Linked DNA regions of Homo sapiens. The protein of the gene in region 3 interacts with the protein of the main gene of each other region in a pairwise test. Each region holds a gene or a part of one and is shown on either strand. Other genes may lie near its edges.

Evidence for each region.
Region 1: the proteins of KCNJ6 (region 3) and CMAS interact in a two-hybrid assay, tested with the Homo sapiens proteins (one large-scale study listed by BioGRID and IntAct).
Region 2: the proteins of KCNJ6 (region 3) and GABBR1 come close enough for resonance energy transfer, tested with the Homo sapiens proteins (one study listed by BioGRID).
Region 4: the proteins of KCNJ6 (region 3) and CXXC5 interact in a two-hybrid assay, tested with the Homo sapiens proteins (one large-scale study listed by BioGRID and IntAct).
Region 5: the proteins of KCNJ6 (region 3) and SYT3 interact in binary tests that used the Homo sapiens proteins (3 or more experiments, as listed by UniProt).
Region 6: the proteins of KCNJ6 (region 3) and PNLIPRP1 interact in binary tests that used the Homo sapiens proteins (3 or more experiments, as listed by UniProt).
Region 7: the proteins of KCNJ6 (region 3) and PTPRD interact in a two-hybrid assay, tested with the Homo sapiens proteins (one large-scale study listed by BioGRID and IntAct).

The regions. Positions count from the first base shown.
Region 1 is NC_000012.12:22,063,218-22,066,168, forward strand, and holds the end of CMAS (N-acylneuraminate cytidylyltransferase), read left to right. Parts: intron 1-555; exon of another isoform or gene 556-710; intron 711-1,903; coding exon 1,904-2,094; 3' UTR 2,095-2,451; downstream 2,452-2,951. UniProt on the Homo sapiens protein: Catalyzes the activation of N-acetylneuraminic acid (NeuNAc) to cytidine 5'-monophosphate N-acetylneuraminic acid (CMP-NeuNAc), a substrate required for the addition of sialic acid.
Region 2 is NC_000006.12:29,626,684-29,630,183, reverse strand, and holds part of GABBR1 (gamma-aminobutyric acid type B receptor subunit 1 isoform a precursor), read left to right. Parts: intron 1-1,076; coding exon 1,077-1,097; intron 1,098-2,170; exon of another isoform or gene 2,171-2,392; coding exon of another isoform or gene 2,393-2,537; coding exon 2,538-2,698; intron 2,699-3,500.
Region 3 is NC_000021.9:37,906,458-37,909,957, reverse strand, and holds part of KCNJ6 (G protein-activated inward rectifier potassium channel 2), read left to right. Parts: intron 1-3,500. UniProt on the Homo sapiens protein: Inward rectifier potassium channels are characterized by a greater tendency to allow potassium to flow into the cell rather than out of it.
Region 4 is NC_000005.10:139,654,849-139,658,348, forward strand, and holds part of CXXC5 (CXXC-type zinc finger protein 5), read left to right. Parts: intron 1-3,500. UniProt on the Homo sapiens protein: May indirectly participate in activation of the NF-kappa-B and MAPK pathways. Acts as a mediator of BMP4-mediated modulation of canonical Wnt signaling activity in neural stem cells.
Region 5 is NC_000019.10:50,629,882-50,633,381, reverse strand, and holds part of SYT3 (synaptotagmin-3), read left to right. Parts: intron 1-570; coding exon 571-1,096; intron 1,097-3,210; coding exon 3,211-3,500. UniProt on the Homo sapiens protein: Ca(2+) sensor involved in Ca(2+)-dependent exocytosis of secretory vesicles through Ca(2+) and phospholipid binding to the C2 domain.
Region 6 is NC_000010.11:116,604,459-116,607,958, reverse strand, and holds part of PNLIPRP1 (inactive pancreatic lipase-related protein 1 precursor), read right to left. Parts: intron 2,818-3,500; exon of another isoform or gene 2,574-2,817; coding exon 2,406-2,573; exon of another isoform or gene 1,056-2,405; intron 1-1,055. UniProt on the Homo sapiens protein: May function as inhibitor of dietary triglyceride digestion. Lacks detectable lipase activity towards triglycerides, diglycerides, phosphatidylcholine, galactolipids or cholesterol esters (in vitro).
Region 7 is NC_000009.12:8,482,003-8,485,502, forward strand, and holds part of PTPRD (receptor-type tyrosine-protein phosphatase delta isoform 1 precursor), read right to left. Parts: intron 3,326-3,500; coding exon of another isoform or gene 3,323-3,325; coding exon 3,225-3,322; intron 2,377-3,224; coding exon 2,117-2,376; intron 1-2,116.

The DNA.
Region 1 (2,951 bases), on a different chromosome or scaffold from region 3:
CAGTATTTACAAGGGTAATATGAGCCTCAAAATAAGAAGCACAGGAAAAACTTTGGGAGCATGTGATCTAGAGACTTCAGGAATAACCCTTAAACCACACATGAAGATTTAATGGACATAAATGCTGCAGAATGTTTGTTAAAGACAGATCCAATTTTTATTAGAAGAAAATTTTAGTGGAATGTATAACAAATTCCAACTATACTTATTATCTTTCTTTGGGATGTTAAGCAAGCTTCTGTATACCTTAGTTTTCTACTTAGAATATAAACACAAACCAAATTTTATAAAGCCATTAGAAAGAAAAACAAAGATAATATAAAATGCTTAACATAGTGCCTACAGATAGTAATAAGTGTATCATTTATATAGGTAAAACTCTAGAATTATATGTGTCAAAATGTAGTGATTATCTACAAATAGTGATAATTAGGATGATTGTGACTTTTTTGCTTCTATTTTTTAAAAAAATATTTCTACCACGAATACGTATTACTTATATGACATTAAAAAAAAAACACACACACACACACTTTAAAAGGAGAGGTAAGAAAATGGAGAAGAGCATTTACATTTTTATTTAAAACTCACAGCAGGCCAGGCATGATGGCTCATGCCTACAATCCCACCACTTTGGGAAGCGGAGGCAGGCAGATCCCTGGAGCTCAGGAGTTTTAGACCAGCCTGTGAAACATAGTGAGGCCCCATGTCTACAAAAAAAAAAAATAATAACTCACTCACCAATGTTTTATATGGGTGACATAAGTGTATAAAAATATATTTCTTAAAAAAATCAATACTTTTATAAGTAAAATTTAGTAAATAGAGCTTAAAGGCTGGATTATGCAAATACTAACTTTTTTTATTTTAGTGAAAACGATTCAAATTTCAACACATTTAATAATAAATGAGAAAATTTCAGTAGATAAGCATAGAACAAATGTAAAAGAAACTCTCTTCAACCAAGATTGTACTATTGTATGTGGTCTAAAGTATAGTAATAGTTTTACTCAGAATGGTGAATTAAAGATACTGGGAGCTTCTGAAATGCATCCTATTCCAAAAAAGGGGTTAACAGAGAGGGAGGAAAAGGATATCGTTATGTCAGTATGATTTAGTATCTATTTTTATTCTTTAAAAATGGTAATTTTTCAGCAACTATTAATAAATGGCATACCAATCAGAACCATTACAGATTAAAAGAGATTTAAGAGATTATATATATATAAACAAAAGACCATATGTTAACCTTATTTCATTCCTGATTCAAATAAGTCAGCTATAAAAGGACAATTTTGAGACAGCTGGGGGTATCTCAACATATACTAGGTTATTAGAGGATATTAAGGAACTATTACTGATTTTGTGGGTTTAATGATATTCTGTCAGATAAAAAATTATATTTATCAGAGATAAATATTGAAGAGTTTTTGGATAAAATATTATGTCTGGGAATTCCTTCTTCTCCCTTTCCCCAAATAAACTAGGGGGCAGTGCATAGAAAACAATATTACTAAGTGATTTTAAATTCTGATAATTTTTCAATATAAAATTGGGGTTCTCGCATATGTTTGAAATTTTGCTTAATGAAAAATTTAAATAACTTACTTAGAATTCATATATAAAATTTCTAACATTTGTAATATGCATGGCAGGTAGCAATTATGCTCCATTCTTCTTCTCTAGCTCATAAGAGTTTATTTTTGATTGCTTAGGGAAAACCCTGGACCTCAATTATACTGTAAAATATTTTTGTTCCATCTAATCTTTAGTATTCTTATATGCAGTGCCCCTAGGTCTTACTGAAGTTGCCAGAGTTACCTGTTGGTTGCTGTCTGCATTATTTAGCTAGAATATTCTTTGTCTCTTTAAATGTTTGCTCAGTATTTATTTTACTTGATAGGAAATGAAGTGTCTGATGAAGAGTGCTTGAAGAGAGTGGGCCTAAGTGGCGCTCCTGCTGATGCCTGTTCTACTGCCCAGAAGGCTGTTGGATACATTTGCAAATGTAATGGTGGCCGTGGTGCCATCCGAGAATTTGCAGAGCACATTTGCCTACTAATGGAAAAGGTTAATAATTCATGCCAAAAATAGAAATTAGCGTAATATTGAGAAAAAAATGATACAGCCTTCTTCAGCCAGTTTGCTTTTATTTTTGATTAAGTAAATTCCATGTTGTAATGTTACAGAGAGTGTGATTTGGTTTGTGATATATATATATTGTGCTCTACTTTTCTCTTTACGCAAGATAATTATTTAGAGACTGATTACAGTCTTTCTCAGATTTTTAGTAAATGCAAGTAAGAACATCATCAAAGTTCACTTTGTATTGTACCCTGTAAAACTGTGTGTTTGTGTGCTTTCAAAGATGTTGGGATTTTATTTATCTGGGGACAGTGTGTATGGTAAGACATGCCCTTCTATTAATAAAACTACATTTCTCAAACTTGATGAAAACTGCCTTGTTGCTCTAGAAGAAATTTACCATGCATTTTCTTTCTTTCCTTTAAACATTAACCAATCTTAGTGAGAAACAAGCCACTCGATGCCGGGGTAGAGCATCTGATTGTACTTCACATATGTATACGTAACAGCATATGGTCTATGTGGGGGTTGGTTCCAGGACCACCCACATATACCAAAATCTGTGCATACTCAAGTACCACAGTCAACACTGTTGAACCCACATATACAAAAAGTGGGCCCTCCATATACTGCATGATTCACATGTATTTTTGATCTGCACATGGTTAAAAAAATTCACATAAAAGTGGACCACACAATTCAAACCCATGTTGTTCAAGGATCAGCAGTATACACAAATACAAATATCCAAATAAATTTATATATTATGAAGATTATGTATTTATTTGGAGGAAGCAAATTATTTGCAGTTACCCCTGAGAGATAATGGTAATTTTGCATACAGGAATATCTTAGAGATATTACGG
Region 2 (3,500 bases), on a different chromosome or scaffold from region 3:
TTATGAATCTCACCTCTCTCACCTTCTTCAGGTTTAAATACTCCAATTTTCCCTTTCTCTAAACTTAGAAATTTCCATGCATCACCCTCTTCTAGAATTCATCCCTCACCATTCCTTATATAATTGATTTATTGTAAAGACTCAGAAATAAATCAAACATTCTACTAAGAAAAATTGAGAAGGGGAGCTCTGGGGGTGGAAACATATTAGGGTAAAAGACTTAAAATTGGAGGCAGCATTATCAGAAGATGAAGAACAACTCAGGGATGGGGTGGGAAGAAGACAGGTCCTTTTCTGTACTTCCTAGACAACCTCCATTATTCCCTAAGGGAATCAGTGTTGTGTCTGTCTACTTTTTTTTTTTTTTTTTTGCCACGTAATTTTACAAACTCTCCCTTTTCTAGGCACCCGAACTCTCTGCCATCTTCTCTCCTGGGATGCAGTCATCCCATTTGTATGCCTCATACTTCCTCTACCCTGGTAGATTCTTTCAAGATCCTTGGGCTTTACTTTCCTCACATAACTCAGTTATTCTGCTTCTAGTTTACCATTTTATTCTGGAAATTGAGAGTCCCATCCAGGGGTGGACTTATGACACTACTGAAACTTAGACTTCAAGGTTCCTCACCTACAGGGCCCTCTTCCTGTGCTCTAATAATATAGAGGGCTCGATGGATATGTGTTCATATGGTAACAGGCTTTTGTAAAAATTGCAGAAATAAGATTTTAACAGCAATTGCTTAAAGCCAATTGTATGTGTAATTTTTTTTCTTAAAGACTCCCAATTTTGTAATATTCAGGCACCACAGAACCAAGATCTGCCCCAAACTTAGCTATTGGCATTCCCGTCTCAAATTCTGTTGTCCTATGAAAAATCGAAGAAGAAAATAAGTCCTGACCCCCTTACCCCCAGACCCACCTTGTTCTTATCCCCAGGCACCCTCCCCTCAGAAACGCAGGCTTCTGCTCTCCCCGGTCTTCAGCATGGACAGGTGTGGGAGGGGGCTGGGGATCAGGCCAGGGAAGCTGGGCGCCAGTGGTAACTCTTCTCTGATCCCCGTCTTTCCTGCTGCCAGTGAATCGAACGCCACACTCAGGTGAGATGAGAAACCCTTACCGCGCGCACTGCAATGCCCTCCCCTTCACTCTGCACCCTCCACCCCCCTGAAATTCTGCCCTTAGGCTACGGGGCGTCGTCCTTTCGCACCTTCCCCAACCCACCCCAGTTTGCGGCCACCCCCTTCCCTCCCTACCTGTTTCCTGCCTCCAGTCCCGGTTTTCCACGAGGCTGCGGTCTCTCCTTGTCCCTGCTTGGCTACACTTCCCTGGGCTCCACCTCCTCCCAGACTGAGCCTCGCCGGTGTCAGGCAGAGCCCAGCAGAGGGCGGCAGGGTGCTGGGAGACCCTGAGCTCCCACCACGTTTTCCCCTGTGGGGTTCCTTGCGACCTTCGCTGGAACCTTTTCCAGCCTGCTGCCTCCTAGGATTTCACCTAATGGACTTTCTCAGCCTGTCCCACCCATCCCAACCCTGGCCAGGCCTCTCGCGCTCTTCCCCACATCTTTTCCTTCCGTGTACCCCTTCCCTCGTCTTTTCTCAATTCCATGTCCTGTCTCCCTTTCTTAGGCTTCTGTCTACCCAGCCCCAGGCTCCCTTCCACGACCCCACCACTCCCTCAAACCAGCCTCCCTTCCGTACCCAACTCGTTCCCTCCAAAACCGTTTCCTCTCCCCCACATCCTCAGTGCTTCACTGTATCGACTCATACTCCCACTTCAGACCTCAGGCGCCAGCCCCGTTTCTCTCCCGTCCCACTCGCATCCTTCCCTTCCTACCCTGGTTCCTCCGTGCTTCAGCCTCCCGCGGCTCCCTCCGCCCACCCCGCCCTCCTGGCACGCCCCGTCCCCATTTCTCCTCCCCTCGGGTCCCCTTAAGTGAGATCCCTCCCTTCCTCTTTCGTTCCTTTCCTCCTCGAGGTTGCATCCCCCCTCCCCTCCCCGCCCCTCCGACTGTCGCTCCCACCTCGGCGCTCGCTTCCCTCCCCGCCCCCTTCCTGCCTCCCCAGCTCCCGCCCGCCCCCCCACCCCCCGCTGCCGCGCGCCGCCCGTGACGTCAGAGCCCCCTCCCAGCCCCACATCTCCCTCCTGCTCCTCCTCCTCCCCTCCGTCGGTCAGTCAGTCCGCGAGGAGAGTCCGCGGTGGCGGCGACGGTGGCGAGAGCCGCGGGGGCCGTAGGAAGCCAACCTTCCCTGCTTCTCCGGGGCCCTCGCCCCCTCCTCCCCACAAAATCAGGGATGGAGGCGCCTCCCCGGCACCCTCTTAGCAGCCCTCCCCAGGAAAAGTGTCCCCCCTGAGCTCCTAACGCTCCCCAACAGCTACCCCTGCCCCCCACGCCATGGGGCCCGGGGCCCCTTTTGCCCGGGTGGGGTGGCCACTGCCGCTTCTGGTTGTGATGGCGGCAGGGGTGGCTCCGGTGTGGGCCTCCCACTCCCCCCATCTCCCGCGGCCTCACTCGCGGGTCCCCCCGCACCCCTCCTCAGAACGGCGCGCAGTGTACATCGGGGCACTGTTTCCCATGAGCGGGGGCTGGCCAGGGGGCCAGGCCTGCCAGCCCGCGGTGGAGATGGCGCTGGAGGACGTGAATAGCCGCAGGGACATCCTGCCGGACTATGAGCTCAAGCTCATCCACCACGACAGCAAGGTAGCCCTGGACATGGGGGTGGGTGGGAGGTGGGGGCTTGCGGGGCAGGGGGCCAGCCAGCTGCACGCGCCCCCATCTGTCTGAGTCGTCTCTGGGATTGCGAGGCAGACCCCTCCCTTGTGTGACTGGCAGGAGATGGGCTGGGGGTGCAGGAGCTTGGGGAGAGTCGCAGGGGCTGGAGGTCCAAGATGAGGGTCTAGGGGCTCAAGATGGTTAAGCATGCTGCAAGGCAGACCCTTCTGCCCCGCTGCGGGAGTCTCGCAGAAGTGTCGGGGTTTGGAGAAACTGGTGGTGGATTTAAGGTATTAGGAGACACTGATCCTCTGAGGGAGTAAACTAACCCTGGAATGGGTTGGGGGTGGAGGGAATGTCAGAGGTGGGGAGCTGGATTGGGGGTTTACATTTACCATGGTAACAAGGTAAAATCTTGGCGTAGGTTGGAGCTGGAAGGAATAGGGACAGAATGAGGAAAATTTTGAGAGACTTGAGAGCTCTAGTTTATTTATCTTAACAAAACAGCAAGGTAGTGGTGAGCCCTACCTGACTCCTTCTCATCCTTCTATTCCCAACCCTGTTGAGCATTCCCAGACTGTGGGATAGATGGCATATGGTGATTGGGGAAGGCTAATGATCAAGAGGTGGGCAGAGGCACTGGGAAAATGAATTGGATTGGGGATCCACATGGGAACCCCCACAATAGCATGGGGATGAAGAAGAGTCAACATACAAGGAGAAGAGAACAGAAAAGAATGGCAGTGGGGGAGAGGGGCAAGGAGGTAGCGTGGGGATAATGAGAGATCTT
Region 3 (3,500 bases):
CACATGTCACATCAGTGTCAATGATCAATGGGAAGGAGATGTATATTTCTCCCACAGTGAAGCACTGCAAGCCGTGCAGCAACAGGTAGAGACATCTAATCTTTCAGAGAGGGAAGAGAATAATTGGAGGCAATAATATAATCCACTATGCTAACTATGTGACCTTAATCAACTTTATGCCTTGCTTTCCCTATCATAAAATAATAACAATAAGAGTAATAATAACAACATATACCTCAGAGATGTTATGAGGATTCATGTGATAATGTAAGTAAAGTTCTTAGCACAGGCCAGGAGCGGTGGCTTACACCTATAATCCCAGCACTTTAGGAGGCCGAGTCAGGTGGATCCCTTGAGGCCAGGAGATGACTTGAGACCAGCCTGGCCAAAGTGGCAAAACCCCATCTCTACTAAAAATACAAAAATCAGCCAGGTGTGGAGGCACATGCCTGTAGTCCCAGCTACTCAGGAGGCTGAGGCACAAGAATTGCTTGAACCCAGGAGGCAGATGTTGCAGTGAGCTGAGATCACACCACTGCACTCCAGCCTGGGTGAGAGGGAGACTCTGTCTCCAAAAAAAAAAAAAAAGTTCTTTGTGCAGTGTCCAGCACAAAGTAGGCACTTTAAAAATAGCAGATGTTTTTATTCATTTATTGCAATGTGGCATTAACTTCAGTTCTTGATGAGCCTGTGTATACTGTATTAATTAGAAAGTTCTTGAAACAGAAAATATCTAAATCTCACTAATTTAACAAAATAGAAGATTTCTTTCACATAAATCTAATTGGTTGATGCCGTACAAGGACCCAGGCTGAGGGACACTTTGTCATCTTTAGTACATGGCTTCTAAGATCTGCTGAGTGGTGATATCCAACTAGCAGACAAGGAAAGAGGGAGAGTAGATGATTATGTAGAAGATTTTAATGATCCGGGCCTAGAAGTAATGTATATCACTCCTATTCATATTCTATGGTCATACCTAACTGCAAGAGCAGCTGCAAATTGTAGTTCAGCTCTATATCCAGGAGGAGGGAAACTGGTAGGGTGAACACACTGGAGTCTTTGGTATGCATGCCCGATATAAATGTCTGGCAGCAAAGAAATACAGCTAATGTGAATCAGGATAGAGTAAGGCAGAGGAAATGATTTGTCCCAGTGGTGAAAAGATTCCTGGTAGAGACAATATTTCCTGGTGCCCTTGAATCATTCTTTAGTGGTGTATTTTTTTAAAATAAATTAGTTGGGATATGTTGACTTTTGGAGTAGGTGTAGATGATTCTTAACAAAAGAGATGCAAATACATATTGTTTGATTTCTGTTAGCTGATCTGTTAAAGTAGACACAAAGGAGAAAAGCCAACTTCACAACCCATGCTCAAAAGCAATGTTCTAATCTTGACAATTACACCCACATTGTGTCTAAGAATGCTGAAGAATTAGATGCTGTCTTCTAATATCTGGCACTTGCTGTTGACTAGCAATTTGCATTTTGTTTTAAATCCCCTAAATGTCCATAGGCTAGATACATGCTGTAAGTTTAGGTTGAATTAGTCTACTAATAGTCATTGTTTTCCTGAAAATAGACCATGTAATTTGTAAGCAGTGTTTGAGAACCTCTGCTTCCCTCAAGGAGAAAACTTGGAAACTAAGTTCCATACCTTTTCACTAGAAGCAAAAGAACAGCTTTAATGCCAAACTTACAACCTAGAAAAGAGAAATGTCAGGGAGAAATATCTGAGAAGACTATGAGAGGAAGAACCAGAAGAAACAGAGTGGTGATCCATAATACTTCCGGTTCTCTTACATCGTTTCCATTTCCCTAACTCAGATATCACAGCCACATACATTCATGCAGGGGAAAACATTATCAAAATGAAACAGTAAATACCAGTAATGCATGTTAATCCTTCCATGGGGCAGTAATACTGGATTAGAAAACTCTTGACCTCTTCAAATATCTTGCCATTCCAAAGTAAATAATGTCTCATAGTGGAACTTCTGTTTAATGAAGAGAATGTTTTTGAGGACAGGATTTATTTCACTGCCACATTCAATCATTTCAATTTAAAAGGGATATAATCCAACAATCTATGTGCAGAAGGGAATAGGCAGGACAGTACCTGAGTCCAAACCATGTAATATTAGAGTAGATGAAAGAATTAGGAGTGTTTTCCCTGGAGAATATGTGGGGGAGGAGGCATGATAGTTGTTTTCAGGTATCTTGATATTTGAAGATGAAGGAAGGATTATAATTGTTCTGCTGGGCTCTAAGGGATAAAAGTGGGACCCAGCAGTGGAAGCTACAAAGTGACATATTTTGGTTCAATATAAGAAAGCATTTTCAGTAGTCAGAGCGGGGCAGAGGTAATGTGATCTGTCTTCTCTGCATTTACACAGCTCTGAATTCTTTGTCACTAGAAGCATAAAGAAGCTGAGAGAGCTAGGAACTGGGGTTGGAGTGTATGTATTTCAAAGTCTCTGCAACACAGAGCACTTCTAATGGCTATGAGAGAAGCGATGCCCTTCAGGCTCAGTCAACAAATCAGACTGGACCTCACCACTCTATGGGGCCATTGCTTTATGACTGAGGGAGCCATCATTTCTCTATAAAAAAAATGAATCACATTTAACCAAAAATGATATCTCAGTCCCTACACGAACCTTGTGTCTATGAGAGCAGGTCTGGAATGCAGTAATCATATGACTAAGCAGCATCACATGACTAAGAGGAAGGGTACAGGACTCACTGCTCATGGAAAAGCTTTACCCTTGCTTTTTGTTGTCAACACACTACCTTCAGTCAAAAGACAAGGAATGAAATCTCTCTTCGGAGGTTTTTGCATCACCTTACAACATTTTCAGAGCCAAGACTCCATGACGAGTTAGGCAGAGCACACTTCAGATTTTTAGACATCTCTAACGTGCAAAATATAGTGCTACTAACATATAATTCCTCCTCTCAAGAAATCTAGTTTCAATAATGGCAACGAATGGGGTAGATTCCTTCCTCTTCAGCTGTCTCCCAAGGTCTCACCAGTCAATACCCTAAACATATTCACCCTCTTAAATTTTCATTAGCCCTCCTGGGGTGGCTGGGCCCACAGTAGTAAAGCATATAAAGAGAGGGCAGAAAGAGGACGGCAAATAAAGAACCTATGACATTATGTGTTGTCATTGGAAGAGAGGCCGCATTAGGTGGCCCTCTTTTTTAATCAGCACTCAAGGAGTGTTGGGCCCAAGCCCACACTCCACATGTCTCCTTGACTGGCCACTGTTGGGGGTCTCTGTGGACAAAAGGAGGCATCAGAGCTGATGAAAGTCAGCTGAGGTCAGTGGTTCCCATAGTGTGTCCCTGAACCAGCAGCAGCATCACCAGGGAGCTGGCTACAAATGCAAATTCTCAAGCTCACCCCCCGATCTACTGGATCAGGAACCCTGAGGACAGGGCCAATCATCTGCCCATCCCCTCCAGGGATTCTGATGCACTCTAAAGGGTGGGAG
Region 4 (3,500 bases), on a different chromosome or scaffold from region 3:
GGGGACTGACCCAGGTGGTGAAGCTAGTAATGGGGCCAGGCTGGGGTAGCGTGGGAGGGCTGGGGGGTGACCTGCTGGCTCAGCTGAGCTGTGAGGCCCAGCCGTCCCTCCCCACAGGTCTCTGTGGAAAGTGGTGGCTTGGCTGATTTTTCCTGGGAAGGAGAAGCTGGATGTCTCCCGCTCCTTCCCCAGGAGGTGCCGTGGCAGCGGCTGTGTTGACAGGCCTCCTGGCTTTCTTGATAGGGTGGCTGGCAGCTCTGGAAGGCCGGCTGTACCCAGATCAGCCCTAGGGAAGAGGGAACTGCAGAGGTCTCCCTGCCATCACTAATCCCCGAGGCCCATCCCACCCTCAGCCTGTCCCTCCATCGCAGGAGGAGAGCTGGGGAGACTGGCTGTGATGGAGGTGGTGGAGAGACAGGCCAGAGGTGGGGCAGCCCTCCGCCTCAGGGTTCCCCATTGCTCCCTGGCTAGTCTCCTGCTTCCTATGACCTTTGTCACTCACTGGCCTAGCTCTTCAATATTTCATGGCCCTTCAAGCCGGCCCCCTACCCCAGCCCACACAGCCCCCTTTGTCTCTGCCTGCCACCCCCCGCCGCCCCCCTGGGCATCCCTGCCGCTGAATTACTGACCCAGAGGCTGCCTCTGCCTTCTCCTAACTGTCCCCCACTGTGCCTGCCCCTGACACTTTCCCTATCCCTCCTGACCTACCTCCCCACACCTCTCCTTGTGACACCCTTCATCTCTTCGGGATTCTCTCCCCTTCGCTGACATCTCTGACCATCTCCCTGCCCTTTTCCTCCATTTCCCTCTTTTGTTGGCCTCCTCCTTCCCAGTGGAACAGAAACCGCGGCAACTGGTCCGCCTGCCTGTCCACCCCCCAACCACTGTCCACCCCTTCCTGCCCCCTCCCCCACCAGCTGTGCCGGCCGGCCGTGAGAGCTGGTTTTATTTATTTTTCTGTTTGTTTGGGAAGAGGGCAGTGGCGGCTCTGGGCCCTGGCTGCTGCGCTCTGCTTAGAGCAGCGGGCAGGCGGGCCTCACTGGCCTCCCAGGAATGTGGCTGGGACGCCCCAGCTATATTTACTCCCCTCCAGCTGCCGGCCCCAGCAGGGCAGAGCCAGGCCTGCCTGGTGGCCCCCGGGGAGCCCTGTACCCGCCCTCCTCTGTCTGGCAGACCCTACATCGCCCTTGGGCCCAGCACTCCCTCCCTTGCCTGTGACCTTTTCTGACCTCCTCAGACGTGCCCAGCCTGCCAGCAGGAACACTTGTGTGCCATGCCAGTACGGGCGTAATGTTCGGGCACTGGGGGCCTGGGTTCCTGTGGGGCAACCCCTAGCGGCCCCTACACACCCAAGTAGGGGCCTAGGCTGGGCCTGTAATCCGATGGCCAGAACTATGCAAAGCATCTTTCCAGGCCTTTCTCTGTGGGCCTGGCCCCTGCTCTTGCCACAGTCCCCTTGGCTCTGCTGTGATCACTGGCAGGGGTGGTGTCAGGTGGGGGCCTCAGTGGGCTTGAGTGGCTGTGCTCCTGGCATCACTGGATCCCCAGGTCTCTCACACAGGCACACATATGTACGTGTAACACACCTAAGTGCTTACATACACACACATGTGTGCAGAAAGACACCCTCACCCATGAAAACATGCTGGCTTATACCTTCCTTGCAGGCAGGGCCGTGCCTCCTGTCATTGATCCCCTCATTCATCAGATGCTTATTGGGGCTGCTTATTGGGCCTGCTCCTTGCCAGCCTTGCAATGGGATATGGCAGTGATTACTTCTTGTACCCCCAGTGCCTGGCACCAAATAAGTGTTTGAAGAACTTTAGCTGCTGCTGTAATCAGTTGCGGCCCCCGTTAACTGCTATTTTGTTTTTGTTTTTGTTTTTGTTTTTTTGAGATGGAGTCTCACTCTGTCACCCAGGCTGGAGTGCAATGGCGCCATCTTGACTCACTGCAACCCCCACCTCCTGGGTTCAAGCAGTTCTCCTGCCTCAGCCTCCCGAGTAGCTGGGATTACAGGTGTGCGCCACCATGCCTGGCTAATTTTTGTATTTTTAGTAGACATGGGGTTTCTCCATGTTGGCCAGGCTGGTCTCGAACTCCTGACCTCAAGTGATTCACCTGCCTCGGCCTCCCGAAGTGCTGGGATTACAGGCGTGAGCCACCACCCCCGGCCAACTGCTATTGTTGTAATAGATTGTAACAAAGCCAGTGGTAATGGGTAGCCCAACGAAAGTCCTCTCTGTGGCAGGCACCATGTTAACAGCTTTCTGACTTTCACTTTTTTTCATCCCCACAGTAGCCTCAGGTGACATGGGCCCATACCTGGGACAGATGCATGTTGTTAGCATCCCCATATACAGATAAGGAAACTGAGGCCTTGGGAGTTTGTGGCTTGCCACTGCCTAGTGGGATGGAGTCCTGGCAGAGCCCTTGACAGGCTGTTGGCCTCTGTGTGCTGTTTCCTGCACCTTCCACACTATCTGGCACACAGAAGGGACTCCTTAAATGCTTGCTGGGCACAGGCCTTGCTCTTTCCTCTTTGAGGCCCCCATAACCCTTGGCAATGGGCTGGATGTGTTGGGAGATGGGCTGATAGGCTAGTTGGGCAGACAAAAGTGAATGAATGAATGACTGGATGACTGGTGGTGAGGATAAGTACTGTCAGGGGACACTGGGGTAGGGGGTTGCTGGTGAACAGGCTGGCAGGTGGAGACCTACTGGCCCTGTGGAGGATTCTGGGAAGCAAGGTAGGGGCAAGGCGGAGAGATGTGGCCAGAGAGCAATAGGCTGCTAAGCCAAGCCAGTGGGGCGGGTCCTATCTTCTTTGAGGACCACAATTTTTCCATCTGTCAGATGGGCTTGGGAGCCTTTGTCCTGGCTGGCTGCCGGCTGGCCTGGGCTGGGACTGGCCTGGGAGGTGAGGGGACTGTGGCGGGAAGGAGGAAGCAGTGGGTGGTGAAGACAGGAAGATAAAGCGTGGAGCTTGGCTTGGAACCTGAGAAGCAGAGACCAGCCCTGACCTGACGCCCGCCCTCCCTCCCTCCTAGCCGCAGGATGGGGTGCAGGCATGCAAACCCCCCACCACCCACTCTCACTCTGGTGCGGGCTGACTTCCTGACATCTGTGGCATTAGTGGCTGTGTGTGCCAGGAGGAGGTGGCCTGTCCCCTAGGACTAGACCAGCTTCTCTCCAGGCCAGGGGCTCCCGACAGCTTCATGCCAGTTCCTGTTGACTCTGATGGGAGAGACCCAGCCCCTCTCCTGCCTGACCCACCTCCCCCAGAACTAGATGGGAAATTAGTTAACTGGGCTCATAGCAGTAGGCAGAAGTGGACCTGGCCCCCTTTCTTCCTGGGGCGGTCAGATCTTGGTGGCCTAGAATTTCTTAGTCATGGGAGTCTAGAATCATAGATAGAATGCTTGGAATGGAGGCATTTTTCAAGTCAGGATTCTCGTTGGGATTCTGGAATCACAGAACCATGGATTTTGCTGCTAGAA
Region 5 (3,500 bases), on a different chromosome or scaffold from region 3:
TCTCAGAACTGTCATTTATTACTTGTAAAACCTTAAACAAATCACTGAATCTCTCTGTGTCTCAGTTTCCTCATCTTTAAAATGGTCATATAGAACTACTGGGCTGGGCACAGTGGCCACATCTGTAATCACAGCACTTTGGGAGGCCAAGGTGGGAAGATTGCTTGAGGCCAGGAGTTCGAGCCAGCCTGGGCAACATAGCAAGACCTCATCTCTACAGAAAAATTTAAAAGTTAGCCAGGTGTGATAGCACATACCTGTAGTTCCAGCTTCTTGGGAGGCTGAGGTAAGAGGATTGCTTGAGCCCAAGAGTTCGAGGGTGCAGTGAGCTGTGATTATGCCACTGCACTCCAGCCTGAGTAACAGAGATTCCATCTCTTTAAAAAAATACAATACTTAACCTTGTAGAGTTGTAGAACATAAATTAAGTAATACATGTAAAGTGCCTGGCACTTGCAATTGCATGGACAATTGCATGGCAAATATGAAGGGTTAACTCTTTGGGGACAGCAGAGGGAGGATGTACTGTGACCCCATCCTGACCCCTACCTCTGTCCTCGTTCTCTCCAGACATCTCCGTGAGCCTGCTGTCGGTCATCGTGACATTCTGTGGCATTGTCCTTCTGGGTGTCTCTCTCTTCGTGTCCTGGAAGTTGTGCTGGGTGCCCTGGCGGGACAAGGGAGGCTCGGCAGTGGGCGGTGGCCCCCTGCGCAAAGACCTAGGCCCTGGTGTCGGGCTGGCAGGCCTGGTAGGCGGAGGCGGGCACCACCTGGCGGCTGGCCTGGGTGGCCATCCTCTGCTGGGCGGCCCACACCACCATGCCCATGCCGCCCACCATCCACCCTTTGCTGAGCTGCTGGAGCCAGGCAGCCTGGGGGGTTCTGACACCCCTGAGCCCTCCTACTTGGACATGGACTCGTATCCAGAGGCTGCAGCAGCAGCAGTGGCCGCTGGGGTCAAACCGAGCCAAACATCCCCTGAGCTGCCCTCTGAGGGGGGAGCAGGCTCTGGGTTGCTCCTGCTGCCCCCCAGTGGTGGGGGCTTGCCCAGTGCCCAGTCACATCAGCAGGTCACAAGCCTGGCACCCACTACCAGGTGAGAGAGGATACTGGGTTGGGGGTCCACTCTGAACTTCTGCTCCTCCTCTGTGTCTCTTTCCTATCTATAGCTCTTATGAGTTCGGGATTTGGAGGGGAATCGGGGTATTGACTCCTGGATCTTAGGGAAAGAGGAGGCTGGGGCCCTAGACTCCTGGATCTGAGGGAGGTTGGGGCTGTGGGGTCTAGACCCCTTGGACCAGAAGAAGTAGGGGACTGGGGGCCTGAATTCCTGGGTCCAGAGGGAGGAGACTGGGGGCAGGACTTAGGACAGGAAAGTAGAGGAGAATAAGGTTGGATCCCCAAGTCCCCTGTGGCACAAGGCAGTTCACCCCCTTTCACCCTAAGCCAGGATTGGTAGTGGGACCTGGAGTTCCTTCATTCATTATTTCTCAATATACATGTAAATGTATATTGAGCACTGATATAAACTAGGCCTGAGAGGGGTGTTAGGAAAACACCAGACTCTGCCCTCCTGTCACTCACAGCGCAGGGGAGGCGACCCCCAGACTGGCTGTCCTGGTGTAGCCAGGTTGGTGAGACAGGAAAGCGACTCAGGGAACCGCAACTGGGAGAAGGCTGGGAGCTTCCTGGAGGTGGAGATGTCTCAGCTGAGACCTGCAGGCTGAGGGAGAGTTGGGAAGGCAAAGAGGCAGGGCTGTGACCTGGGCATTCCAGGTGAAAGGAGAGGCCCAGGCAAAGACAAGAGGAGAACGAGATCCTAGTGCATTGTGAGGACAGCCCACACCAAGGGGACAGCCAGGGCACCAAGCCTTAGTCACCAAGGCATGAGAATAAGTTTGAAAAACGGAAAACTTCAGGCTGGGCGCAGTGGCTCATGCCTGTAATCCCAGCACTTTGGGAGGCCGAAGTGGGCAGATCACTTGAGGTCAGGAGTTCGAGACCAGCCTGGCCAATATGGTGAAACCCCATCTCTACTAAAAATACAAAAACAAACAAACAAAAATAGCCGGGCATGGTTGTGTGTGTCTGTAATCCCAGCTACTCGGGAGGCTGAGACGGGAGAATCTCTTGAACCTGGGAGCCAAGATTGCACCACTGTACTCCAGCCTGGGCAGCAGAGTGAGACTCCATCTCAAAAAAAAAAAAAAAAAAGAAAGAAAGAAAAAAGAAAAAGAAAACTTCAGAGATGTGACTACAGACACCAGACCACATGGGGCTTTGAGTGCCCGCCTGAGGGTCTGGGACTTTGTCCTGAGGGCACTGAGGAGCCATGGGAGGGCTGTGAGCAGGGGAGGGGCAGGCTCAGCTCTGGGTGTAGAAGGAACCCTCTGGGGCCATATGGGAGTGGGCTGGAGGGAGACACTGGAGGCTGAGAGTCCAGGAGAGGACAAGGCCTGAGCTGTGACCAGGACAGTGGGGATAGAGAGGAGAGACAGCCGGGGAGATTAAGAGAAGGGCAGAAGAGCGTTCAAAGAAGGTCTGCCAGGGGTCCATGGAGAAGCATCCTGGGTCACCAGCTTGAGGTCCAAAAGAGGTTACTGGAAGCTGGTTTATGCACAGGTCTGGGCTGGAGCTAGCTTTGAAATGGGGAGAATGAGGCTGGGTGTGGTGGCTCACACCTGTAATCCCAGCACTTTGGGAGGCCGAGGCGGGCAGATCATCTGAGGTCAGGAGTTTAAGACCAGCCTGACCAACATGGTGAAACCCCATCTCTGCTAAAAATATAAAAATTAGCCGGATATGGTGGTGCATGCCTGTAATCCCAGTTACTCGGGAGGCTGAGGCAGGATAATCACTTGAACCTGGGAGGCAGAGTTTGCAGTGGGCCGAGATCGCGCCTTTGCACTCCAGCCTGGGTGACAAGAGCAAAACTTCGTCTCAAAAGAAAAGGAAAGAAGGAAGGAAGGAAAGAAGGGAGGGAGGGAGGGAGGGAGGGAGAGAAGGAATGCCCCCCAGATACCAATGGGGAATCTGAGGCTCAGAGAGCACAGTGGCTTCCTCAAGCTCACACAGTGAGCAAAGGAGGGGACTTGTGGCCACCTGGCTGGGGGATGGGGGGAAAGGCAGGGAGGAGTCTCCCAGGTCTCTGCATGCAGTCGAAGATCAGAGCCACTGACCTCACCTTGGTCTCCCCCCAACCCCCTACAGGTACCCAGCCCTGCCCCGACCCCTCACCCAGCAGACTCTGACCTCCCAGCCGGACCCCAGCAGTGAGGAGCGGCCACCTGCCCTGCCCTTACCCCTGCCTGGAGGCGAGGAAAAAGCCAAACTCATTGGGCAGATTAAGCCAGAGCTGTACCAGGGGACTGGCCCTGGTGGCCGGCGGAGCGGTGGGGGCCCAGGCTCTGGAGAGGCAGGCACAGGGGCACCCTGTGGCCGTATCAGCTTCGCCCTGCGGTACCTCTATGGCTCGGACCAGCTGGTGGTGAGGATCCTGC
Region 6 (3,500 bases), on a different chromosome or scaffold from region 3:
TCTTGAACCCAGGAGGTGGAGGTTGCAGTGGAGCTGAGATCATGCCACTGTACTCTAGCCTGGGCAACAGAGCGAGATTCCATCTCAGTCATTCTCCCACGACTGTTGAGAATTCCATGATAAGAACGTAACATCCCATGATGGTAAATGTAAAAAGTCTTACAATTAACAAAAAACAATGCAGATGTAAGCAGTTATTTTTGTGGTTGTTCAAGAACCACGGACTTCTCTCAGGCCTCACCACCTGTGAGCTCGGAAGCTTTGCCCCATTTCCTCACTGGTGTTCCTTGGCCCCTTCCCACTTTCTCTTCTGTGTTTCATTTTTTCTGCCAAGAAGCCCTAACTTGGCATCGGAGGCCTCCGATCATATTCCCTGCACTTGGGCCCTGTCGCCCCTCATGCACTTGGACCTGTTGCCCTGCCCCTGTGCCCTTCCTCCCTCCTACTCCCTGCCTCATCCTGAGAGCTGCCCTTCCTTCCATCACAGCCTCCCCGCGGCCCTCTGCTTTCCTCCTTGGCCACTGTCTTTCTGAGCCTCTCCTGGGAGTTCTTTATTTGGTCTTTTGACCTTCCCTGTGAACCATAAGTCTGATTTTTCTCAACAGCTGAACTGTAAGCTCCTTGAGTGTAGGCTCAGTGTTTGCATCCCTTACTGTTTGCCAGGCCATACAATAGGTACTGAATAAAGTCATTTGCAAGGGTACATTTACCAAAGGTACTTAATAAAGAGAGGGGGACGGAGAAATAAAGAGGGGGAGGGCTGCCTTTCTCTTTGGATACTGTGTCATTGGAGGGAATCCTAGTCGGCAGATTCCTTAGTAGGAATTGAAACCCCAATGAGGTTACTAAAAAATATGAGGGGATTCTGAGAAGAGCTTGGACCAAAATCTTGATTTTCTTTAGCTTCTTCATTATTATTATTATTATTATTATTATTAAATGTTACTGGCCATTTTCATAACAGGAAAATGTTTGAGTAATTCAACTAATTCAGTGTTTTTACTTCCCAAACTAGTTTGAGAGATTTGAAGCTGTTTTGACTTTCCTCTGTTTAGAAAACCTGATGTCTTATATCCAGCTGCTCTTAAGAAAGAGTCTTTCTGGAGCAGACAGCGAGGGGAGCTGCACTCAGCCACTGGAATGCAGGTGACAGCTGATGGGCACAGGACCTCAGGTGCAGCCTTAAGTATGTTCTGTTCCATTTGCAGAAAGTTCAGAAAGCCTCAGCCTTTCCTCAGAAAACCTGGAAGATGCAATGCCCTGGCTGATTTGGACTTGTATGCCTTACCTGTGAGCAAGTCATCTCCTGGGAACACCTCTAATTTTTAAGATTCCAATGATGCCACCACCTGACATGTTTTTAACCACACAGTCCCAGGATCCAGGCCATGGGATGCTTGCTAATGGGGCCTTGGGGAGCTGAATTTAGAGGCTGAGTATCCTCTGATGGGGTCAGGGAGGAAAGGATTTGGTTGCACCTCCAGCTTGCACAGGGCTCCCGACCAGCCCGGCCCAGCCTCCTCTGTACTATGCTCTAGCTTATGAGGCCTCCTGGTTCCACCCACCACCTGGCAGGGCCAACCTCTTTGTTCTCCTTGCCTCGTGGGGATAAGGAGAACCTCACTAAGTCATCCAGTTCGAGGAGACCCAGATGTGGAGTCAGCCCCCATTCTACTCTGCCACCCCACCCTCCCCACCTGGGGGAGTGACAATCTCTGGGACCTGAACTCGGTGACTCCACCTAACCCCAAACTTCAAGAACATCGGTGGCTGAGAGCCCAGGATCTCCTTCCCACAAAGCCACATGTTCTACTAGCCAGACTTGGGGTCTGAGGTTTGAGAGACAGTCGCTCTGCCCTCTCAGGTCACCACTCCAACTTTCCTCCAGCCGTCCCTTTTTCCTACCCACGGCCCTGTGCTTATTCAGGCCCAAAGCCAGGGAGACCACAGGTCAGGATCTCACAAGTATTGCAATCCTAGTGCATTCTTGTCCTATGTAAAATTTTCGATCTTTTCCTAAAACCGATTTATTTTCCGTTTTATTATCCTGAAATGTAATTGGTCTTCTCCTCTTTCAAGTATAGCTATTCACTAGCCCATACTTATAAACTTGTACCCTTCAGAAAGGATTTCTTGTTCTCTTTCTTGTATTTTCTCATTTTACCTTGAAAGTGCAGCCTTATCTTCTGTATTCCCACAGGCAGTGCTGAGAACACCCAATAAGGTGCACCCAACAGAAACATTTTATGCTGTTTGTCAGTTGCTTGTTTGGGGAGAAGGGGCCACAGATGGGTAAATTTTCTTGGCTTTTCTTGCTTAACTACACGTAACTTTCTAGGGTGGGTTTTCATTATAACATGAATCTCTGCAAACATTTTTAGGCACCAGCCAGCAAAGATACATACACTGTCTTCTCTTCTCCCTTTTGCACAGTGATCTTGGTGGCACCCACTTTGGGGAGGGTTGGATTTATCACATTGTTATTCCAAAGAAACTTGACTTTCTCAATTGTTCCAACATCCAGCTTTGCATCAAACTCATAGGAATGGGTTGAGCCTGGTTTGAGAATCCCCCTTGAAATAGAGAAACATAAACATCCCTGTTCACGGAAATGAGTTCTAATTACCATACAATGCCAGGCTGCTGTTTTCTCTTCTAGATTAACAGGATTATTTTTCCGAATTAATTTCCAAATAAAGGATGGAGAAATGGAAAAGCCAGCTATATGCTAGCACCTCAAACTATGGTTTTTAAAACTCAAGTTAATTTTTCCTTAAAGCTTTCTAATAGAAAATAAAATAGAATTCCTGCATATCATTTTATATGTTTTGGAAGAATTATTTGTACAGTAACAAATTGGCCACATAGTATGGCACAATAAGCATGTGTTATTGCACTAATCAGAAAACAGCATATCTGAAGTAATATTAGATTTATGTTTAAAAAAACATCTATTAAGAGAAAGAGGCCGGGCATGGTGGCTCACGTCTGTAATCCCAGCACTTTGAGAGGCCGAGATGGGTGGATCACTTGAGGTCAGAAGTTCGAGACCAGCCTGGCCAACATGGCAAAACGCCCCCCATCTCTACTAAAAATACAAAAATCAGCCAGGTGTGGTGGCACATGCCTGTAATCTCAGCTACTTGGGAGGCTGAGGCACGAGAATTTCTTGAACCCGGGAGGCGGAGGTTGCAATGAGCCAAGATCGTGCCACTGCACTCCAGCCTGGGTGACAGAGCAAAGACTCTTTCTCAAAAAAAAAAAAAAAAAAAAAAAAGAGAGAGAAAGGACGAAATGCCTAGGTTTATAACAGAAAAGAAAAATTATTAGCAGAAGTCTGCAATTAACATCAGTACATAAAGTTATATAGTCCTGCGTTGCTTAACAATGGAGATATGTTCTGAGAAATGTGTCCTTAGGTAATTTAATCATTGTGTGGACATCATAGCATGTACTCACACAAACGTAGATGGCACAGCCTACTACATACCTAGGCTGTA
Region 7 (3,500 bases), on a different chromosome or scaffold from region 3:
GAACTCCTGACCTTGTGATCTGCCCGCCTCGGCCTCCCAAAGTGCTGGGATTACAGGCATGAGCCACCATGCCTGGCCATCTTTAATCTTAATAACTTCTCTAAGCCCACACTTCTAACTAGGTATTTCACTGATATTTCATATTAATACACACAACGTTAAACTCATTTACTTCTGAATTTTTTTATCCTTTAGGATGACACCATCATTCATTGTCATCCAAGCTCAGAACTCAGAGCCATATTTTACTCTCTTGATCTCATCATTAAAGCAGCTACCAATAATGTATGCTGTACTACTACTCTAGTGTAACTCATGTCTACCTCTGCATCCTACTTCCATCATCATCATCTTCCTTTAGAATCTTGTTATTTGCCTAGAGTCAACTATGTGACCACCTCCCAATAATTTTCTCTACCACTATCTCTATGGCGCTCCCATCTATCCAAATTCCAACAATGCATGAACTATGAATAAATGCCTCTCTGCTTGACCTTCAAACCTGGCATAGCAAGTTTCACCTAAACTTGAGGGTGTGAGATAGAAGAAATGAGAAAGGATTTATTCTTATTCCAAACAGGTAGCACAATAGATGCTCAACAAATATTTCCTAAAATGGAATTTTATTATGTATTATTGAAATGTTATCATGCCACTCTCCTGTGTAAAGAGCTGTAATGGGTTGCCATTGTCTAGAGGATATAGTTTTCACTTCTGGGTATACCCTTGGCTCTTGTATGCCTCCTTCTTCCTTCTCTTGCCACTTGTGGCCAGGCGCTCTGGGATCCAGCCGTATGGCACCACTGGGTGCCTTTAGTAATGGGCCTATGCACTTACCACTCCCTTTGCATATAGTCTCTCTTTTATTATTTGTATGCCTCCTATTTATCCCTTAAGATTTAAGTTCAGAAACTTTATTGACCCATTCTGAATTAGCTGCTCTTAAGATAAAGCATAATTCTATCATTAACGCTTACTACATCTGTCTGTTTCTCTGTATCTCTCTCACTCTATGGTAAGGTCTTTGAAGTCAGGAATCCATCTTTTTTTATTCCCCGGAGTCTACCACAGTACTTGTAGTTCATATATTTTGGTGAAAATACTTTTTTCTTCTATTAGTTATTCAACCAACTAGCTATATGTCCTTGGACAAACTTATTTAATTGACTGGATTTAATTTTCCACTTCAGGCCTGTTGGCCTCTATGCTGTGCTACATTCAAACCAGAAAACTTGAATTTTCTAATGTTTATATTTTTTCCAATGTCATTTTTAACTTTAACTTTTTGGAATTTTTCCTACTTTTAATACATCAGTGTCATATACCATTATCTAATTTCCCCCCCTTTTTTTCAACCTTTTAGTACTTTGTAAGACTTCTTCATAATTACAAAAATATTTTGCCAAATATTAGAGTTAATCACCTATTCACCTTATTCCATAAACTATGACATAAAATGCTTTGTAGTAGCCGGGCGCGGTGGCTCATGCCTATAATCCTAGCACTTTGGGAGGCTGAGGTAGGTGGATCACAAGGTCAGGAGATTGAGACCATCCAGGCTAACACGGTGAAACCCGGTCTCTACTAAAAATACAAAAAATTAGCCAGACATGGCGACAGGTGCCTGTAATCCCAGCTACTCAGGAGGCTGAGGCAATCCCAGCTACTTGTGACGCTGAGGCAAGGGAATCTCTTGAACCCGGGAGGTGGAGGTTGCAGTGAGCCGAGATCGCGCCACTGCACTCCAGCCTGGGTGACAGGGCGAGACTCCGTCTCAAAACAAAAACAAAAACAAAAACAAAAACAAACAAACAAACAAACAAACAAAAAGCTTTGTAGTAAGAACCATGTTCTATATGTTTTTCTGTTTCTCCTAAATAACACTGTCCCTGCAATACAGATTAAAAACTCACTGTTAAATTAATGAAAATCTGTGTTACAATGAATACTAGGACACGTTGTAAAAGAACTCGGATAGCAAAACTGGGAGTCTGAGCAGAAGAATCTTTCACTACATTAAGCAGTATCTTCTTTTACGACCTCTATAATTTTGAGATATAATGTTCCTATTTACCTATAATTCTTTCCTTCAGCCCTAAGCCTTCAATCAACTTACTTTATATTCTCATTTGCAGGTACTTCAGGCAGTTGCACAGTAATCATGCCATCCAAGTTGGTCTTCCCAATGAAGGCAGGCTTGGTACGTAATACATCTGGTGCAGTCTTTGCCGTGACCCTGTGCTGCAGCCCACCAGCACTGTTTCCACGATTTGTCAGCACAAATGAATATGATTTCTCAGGCTTCAGGTTGACAATTAACTTCTGTGTGGCTCGGCCATCCACTTCTTCTACCATTTTCCCATCATCATAAAGAATCTAAAGAGATAAAACCAATAAAAAAAAAATCTGGTTATCAGAGAGGCAAAATATATTTTCTAAACCAATGTGCACTAGCTTTTGGAAAATGTATATATAGTCAATTCTAATTTTAGGTGATTTCTAAGTCCATGAGTAGTCATAATTCTGGAGATCACATCAATTTTCCTGTCATTTCCTACTGTGTAATGATAAAATGTTTCCAAGTCTATCAAAAATACACAAAGATAGATATATACATATATATATATAGAAAATAACTTATCAATATTAGACCTGTCAGTTGTATGTGATCTTAATGGAATATGTGCAGAAAAGCTCTACGTTTCAACGTATTATGAATATTGCCTATTTTCTAAAGGTTTTGGTTCCTCTTTCTAAATATACTTTTACTTTCAAAAATGTTTCTCTATTTCTTATTTCATAAATATGTACTTGCTAACATCTCTTAATGGCAAGCCAGAGTTTAAAATGTGCCAAGAATACAGGCCAACAAACAAATTCAGAAACTCCCAGGGTATTATAATATAAATAGGTAGAAACCATGTAAATTTCATTCTCTGGCTGAAAAACAAAAGCACTAGCTTAGATGTAAAAAGTTCAAGTTCAAAGTAGTAGGTAACCTACAAGTGATGCCAGCCCTGGATTTAAGCTCCTGCTCCTTCTTCAGAGTGTAAAGGACACACTTACAAAGCACCAAACTGTCTCCCATGTGAAAGTCACAAATGAAAATAGCAAGGACACGTGGCCAAAACAAAGTGGTCTGCTTGCTGTGCAAATAACTTACCCAGATAAACTGTCCCCTCTACTTTTATCTGTGATTTCTTACAAATTAGAAAACAACTTACTTTGAAAGGCATGGCGGAGTTATAATTCTCTGGAATCTCCCAAGACAGCAACACGGAAGTCTTCATTACTGCTTTGACATGAAAATTTTTTGCAAACACTGCTGGAAAAGGAAAAACAGTGTATTTAAACTATTCTTAAAACAGATGACCTGTCCTTTCCACCATGGACCATAGGGGCTTATGCTAGATGCTGTCTACTTTGATCAGAGAGAGAAGTATGATTTTCCTACCTGTTTAGAGCATTCATTTTAATACCCCATTCTCACAGAGATCTTT